2 separate regions of the Homo sapiens genome follow, and region 1 is linked to region 2. Evidence: fine-mapped expression QTL. A gene starts in region 2. The other region holds a variant in brackets. All regions are shown on one strand. Distances are from middle to middle. Region 1 overlaps LYRM4-AS1 (LYRM4 antisense RNA 1). Region 2 holds the start of LYRM4-AS1 (LYRM4 antisense RNA 1).

What was found.
Region 1: its variant is fine-mapped to the expression of LYRM4-AS1 in whole blood (TOPMed, PIP above 0.99).

Annotation. Positions count from the first base shown.
Region 1 is chr6:5,035,276-5,038,179 of GRCh38, reverse strand. All of the region lies in intron 2 of LYRM4-AS1 (LYRM4 antisense RNA 1), which reads right to left. It also overlaps a transcript of LYRM4 not described here. Among named protein-coding and RNA genes, the nearest start is that of RPP40, 33 kb to the right of the region's middle. The variant C/G (reference allele first, on the strand shown) is at 1,706.
Region 2 is chr6:5,002,344-5,005,247 of GRCh38, reverse strand. LYRM4-AS1 (LYRM4 antisense RNA 1) reads right to left here and starts at 1,432. Exons shown (of 4, transcript NR_126015.1): 1 at 1,289-1,432. It overlaps RPP40 (ribonuclease P/MRP subunit p40), which reads left to right and starts at 1,211. Exons shown (of 8, transcript NM_006638.4): 1 at 1,211-1,368. The coding sequence starts at 1,246. RefSeq lists silencers at 1,101-1,230, 1,361-1,610.

The DNA.
Region 1 (2,904 bases), 33 kb before region 2:
GCCCCGCCTCCCTGTCTGGGATGTGAGGAGCGCCTCTGCTGGGCCGCAACCCTGTCTGGGAGGTGAGGAGCGTCTCTGCCCGGCCGCCCCGTCTGAGAAGTGAGGAAACCCTCTGCCTGGCAACCGCCCCGTCTGAGAAGTGAGGAGCCCCTCCGTCCGGCAGCCACCCCGTCTGGGAAGTGAGGAGCGTCTCCGCCCGGCAGCCACCCCGTCCGGGAGGGAGGTGGGGGGCGGTCAGCCCCCCGCCCGGCCAGCGGCCCCGTCCGGGAGGTGAGGGGCGCCTTTGCCCGGCCGCCCCTACTGGGAAGTGAGGAGCCCCTCTGCCCGGCCAGCCGCCCCGTCCGGGAGGGGGGAGGGGGGGTCAGCCCCCTGCCCGGCCAGCCGCCCCGTCCGGGAGGTGAGGGGCGCCTCTGCCCGGCCGCCCCTACTGGGAAGTGAGGAGCCCCTCTGCCCGGCCAGCCGCCCCGTCCGGGAGGGAGGTGGGGGGGTCAGCCCCCTGCCCGGCCGGCCGCCCCGTCCGGGAGGGAGGTGGGGGGATCAGCCCCCCGCCCGGCCAGCCGCCCCGTCCGGGAGGTGAGGGGCGCCTCTGCCCGGCCGCCCCTACTGGGAAGTGAGGAGCCCCTCTGCCCGGCCAGGACCCCGTCTGGGAGGTGTGCCCAGCGGCTCATTGGGGATGGGCCATGATGACAATGGCGGTTTTGTGGAATAGAAAGGCGGGAAGGGTGGGGAAAAAATTGAGAAATCGGATGGTTGCCGGGTCTGTGTGGATAGAAGTAGACATGGGAGACTTTTCATTTTGTTCTGTACTAAGAAAAATTCTTCTGCCTTGGGATCCTGTTGATCTGTGACCTTATCCCCAACCCTGTGCTCTCTGAAACATGTGCTGTGTCCACTCAGGGTTAAATGGATTAAGGGCGGTGCAAGATGTGCTTTGTTAAACAGATGCTTGAAGGCAGCATGCTCGTTAAGAGTCATCGCCACTCCCTAATCTCAAGTACCCAGGGACACAAACACTGCGGAAGGCCGCAGGGTCCTCTGCCTAGGAAAACCAGAGACCTTTGTTCACTTGTTTATCTGCTGACCTTCCCTCCACTATTGTCCTATGACCCTGCCAAATCCCCCTCTGCGAGAAACACCCAAGAATGATCAATAAAAAAAAAAAAAAAAAAATACAAGCTAAAGAGACAAGACTTCTCAATACTGGGGCAGTGATGTGCTTCAGAGACCTAGATAACAGGGGACTTTGAAGGGCACCCTCCTAGGAAGGACCTCCTAACTTCTCAGGCATCAGTTTCTGCTTCTGTTGACTCAGAAAGGAGCTCCCAGTGGTATAACTTGAGCGTATCCCGTGCCCGCAGGTCTCCTGAGAAAGTGGACTGTGTCTTCTCACTGTCCGGGCCCAAGGAGAAGATGTTGGGCTGAAGGGAAGCTCATTTAGAGGGAGGCCTTTATCTCAGGAGAGAAATTGATGCAAGATCTCAGTCCAGCAGGAAGGAGAGTGACTATCTGAAGCAATCGGATGCTTTCTTTGCAGAGGGATTTGAATTTGAAACTGTAGAGACCATCAGCACTCGCTAGTCTGGACAGAAGGAGACGGCAGGCAGAGAAAGCAGTGGTAGAAGTAACGAGTCAGGACAAACCATGGCCAAGCAGGGGCTGAGGTGGCCAGGGCTCTATGACAGCAGCCCCAGCTCCTGGAGCAGCA[C/G]ATGCCAGCTCAGCGGAGGCAGCTGGTGTTGCATCTCAGAGCTGCTGTTGAAACCACGCCCAGGTTGCCTGTGAATAACCTTCCTTTCAGGCCTCAGCAGCCTGCTGAGGCGCTCTCTGTTTTTTCCCTCCTATCTCCTAGGCTAACCTGGAAGAGCCTAATTAACACACGTGTAAATTAAGATCTCCTCTGGCTCAATATTCTGGAATTACACTGAGAAAACTCATTAATTCAGACCACTTCTTCCACATTTTTAATTATTCAATTTGGATTAAGCTGGAGTTTATTTTGCTCAACAAAATTTTATTATAGATATAGCTCAAATTAAAAAGAGAGGGGGCAGAGGAATTACTTAAAATATTTAAGGGAACATGCTCTTAACATGTTAATTTTAAACTATTTATTAAAAATTCATGACACAAGGAACTTCAGTTAGGTAAAATGAATAGAATTGTTAAGCTTTTTGCTTTTTATCAGCAAATATTTATTGTCCTTTCTTTGGGCCAGGCTCTGTGCTAAATTCCAGAACACAACATCAAATCAATTAAATAGGCATGATACTGTAGGTTAATTTAGAAATAAAAGTGCAACATAAGAAATATCTTGAAGTATTGTTTTTCACCACCTCCCCAAATATGTCTATATGCATACACATATACTAATATACATACATACATATGTGGGGGGGGGAAGGAAGGAAGGAAGGGAAGGGGGGGAGGGGAGGGAGGGAGGGAAAGAGGGGAGGGGAGGGGAGGGAGGGAGGGAAAGAGGGGAGGGGAGGGGAGGGAGGGAGGGAGGGGAGGAGGGGAAGGGAGGGGAGGGAGGGAGGGAAGGAAGGAAGGAGGGGAGGGGAGGGGAGGGAGGGAGGGGAGGAGGGGAAGGGAGGGGAGGGAGGGAAAGGAGGGGAGGGGAGGGGAAGGAGGGAGGGAAGGAAGGAAGGAAGGAGAAAGAGCCTTGCCTTGAAGCAGCTGGTGGGGGAGGTGGAGGAGAGTGTGACGGATCCCGCTGCTGCGATGCACGCTGAGCCAGAGGTGTGTGCAGGGCATGTCACCTGGCACTGAAGAAAAGATTTTCAGCTGCCCTAGGGGAGGGTCCAGAGAGACTTCCTGGGCATCACTGGGGCTGAGGCTTAAAGGATGGATCTGGGTGACTAGATGGAGAGGAGAGGGCACCTCAGGAAAAGCATCTTCAGGCAACTA
Region 2 (2,904 bases):
ACTGTGCTCGGCCAGATTACTGATGTTTATAATGGCAGATGACTTTCCAGCCTTGTCTTAGTTTTATTTTTATTTTTGGAGATGGGGTCTCACTATATTGCCCAGGCTGGTCTTGAACTCCTAAGCTCAAGTGATCCTCCCACCTCAGCCTCCCAAAGTGCTGGGATTACAGGCATGACCCACTGTGACTGGCTTAGTTTTAAATTCTTAATTATTTACCTTGTAAACTACTTAATTCCATTTCTTCCACATCTCATAGAAAAACTGATGTTCCAGGAAGATGTATCACCAATATTCTGCTGTTTTGTATCCTGCCAGTGCAGAATTGGGGCTGTGCCTCTCTAGTTTGAGAAGCATGTAGTAACATACTTGATTTTGCCCTGATCAGTAACGTACCGCATGCTGGGAGCCGCAGTCTCTTAACCGCTCCAAGCCCGTGACAGAAAAACGAAATGGAAAAATGACTTAGGAGAATTATCACTATTAACCCCCAGAAACAACACATTATTAAAAGCGGTTCTGAAGGGCTATTTAAAAGGGAACTCAATAGTAGTTTCAAAGGAGTCCTATTGTAAGGCAAAAATTGTGCTTTACCTTCCCGCACAACCTTCCCTAATGTTTTGGGAAGGACTGATACAAACTTTTAGTCCTGTTGGCCTGTGTTAATAATGGCCAAGAGGTCCCCAATGGGTAACAGAGTCCTGTGAACCAAACAGTGTGAGAAGTCAGAAAGCAGCTGGGTGTGGCCCCCAAAGCAGCTTAGGGGGTTACTTAACTGTGCGGCTACATTTCTTGACCATATACTAAAGGAACTGGGCCTTTCCATGCGATGTTTTCCTTTTATAACGGTGGCAGGAAGCGGTCCCTCTGAGGGGCCTGACCGAGGTATGCGCCGGCGCCAGGCTGGGGTCCAAGGGGCGCTCCGAGGCGGGGCCCACAGAGAGGGTTTAGGGCAATTCCAAGGGATGGCGGGGACGGAGGAAAAGTGGCGTTGAAAAGGCAAGAGCCAGGTTCCCAGCCACTGGGACAGTGAATTTACAGCTTCAGACATCCACCAAAGAGCGGCTGCGTGGGCTCCTAAGAAGTCTAAGAACTGCTCAGAAATCCAGCGCCGCCATCCCCACTCCACCGCCGCCAGGGGCGCACAGCAGCGGGTATGCGGCCGGAGGGAAGGGGCGGGGCGGGAGGAAGGGGCGGGGCGTGCCCCGCCAGCGGAGGCCGGGAGGACCAGGAACCCAGGAGAGCATGGCCACGCTGCGCCGGCTTCGGGAGGCGCCGCGGCACTTACTGGTTTGCGAGAAATCCAACTTCGGCAACCACAAGTCGCGCCACCGGCATCTTGTGCAGACGCACTACTATAACTACAGGGTGAGTCCGGCTGTCCTCGGCTTTTCGGGCCGTGCTCAGTCCCCGCGTGCGAGAGAGGTTTGGGGAGAGTGCTAGGCTTCGCGGGGCGGGGCCGCCGGCGGTACGCGGAGGGGCGGGGCCCTCGCCCGGCTTGCTGGGAGTTGTAGTCTCTTAACTGCTCTAAGCCAGTGGCTTGCAGGGCTACAGGACTACAACTCCCAGGATGCGCCGGGCGTGGGGGCGGTACCCAGTCTGGAGGGAGCTGTTGTCAGGGGCGTTCTGGCTGCTCACTCGTGTCAACCCGCCGAACTGGGAGTGAGTCCAGGGAGGGATTCGAGGTTCAGGGCCGGGACCAGGGAGTTAGGCTGTGGGGCAGCCACGTGCACCTCGCTTTTTCCCCAAATCAGGGCGGGTCTCGCGCCTCCTCCCCACCACTGCCTCCTCCCCAGCTTGAATCCCTCTCCCACCTGCGTACCTGTGGATCTCACCAGAGCATCCTGCCTAGGCTCGGCCCAGGAAGCGACTGATTTTCCTTTTTTTTTTTTTTTTTTTTTTAGACGGAGTTTCGCTCTGTCGCCCAGGCTGGAGTGCAGTGGCGCGATCTCGGCTCACTGCAGGCTCCGCCTCCCGGGTTCACGCCATTCTCCTGCCTCAGCCTCCCGTGTAGCTGGGTCTACAGGCGCGCGCCACCACGCCCGGCTAATTTTTGTATTTTTAGTAGAGACGAGGTTTCACCGTGTTAGCCAGGATGGTCTCGATCTCCTGACCTCGTGATCCGCCCGTCTCGGCCTCCCAAAGTGCTGGGATTACAGGCGTGAGCCACCGCGCCCGGCCGAAGCGACTGATTTTCTAAATTGGTTGTTGGAACTAATTTGATATCTGAGAGACTTCAAGAAACTAACCTTATCATGGGGGATTAAACATTTTACACTTTAAATGGATCAGCTTAATAACTCAGGTTTGACTGAGCAGTGTTTCAGAGATGTTAAGTGGTGACCTGATCAGTCAGAACAGGCTGGTGTTTGAGCCTTGGGACAGTGATGACTTTTACAATGTGGCAACATTTGAAGCCTGCCCTGTTTTTAACACCTATTTTGGATGTCAAGCTCATCACAGCAGTCAGGGATGTATACTTTAACTCGCCTGTTGCATTTTTCTGTCTCGAAAATGAAAACATACAGGAGCACCATTGCTTGCACATAGATTCTTAGTAATTGGATGTCCATAAATTAATTCCTTATGCCCCGACAGATAGTTTGTTTCATTCCAGGATAACACCAGGGTAAACAAATCAAGGGATATTCAATTATACTATATTTCCTTGAAAATAAAATAGTGAAAGGAACAGGACATAAAATATACAGCATTGCTAATTTGCAAAAGATTAAATGCAAGCACGAGTTTTCCATTAAAAGTATTCTGTTCAATCCCCTTCCTGTACTGTACGTTTGAATGCAGAAATGAAAAACTTAAGTAGTCAGATTTCTCTTTGCCTGAGATAGGTAAGTTAACATAAGAGTTTTGTTGCCCGTGTTTTTATGTTCCAGTGAAACTCGT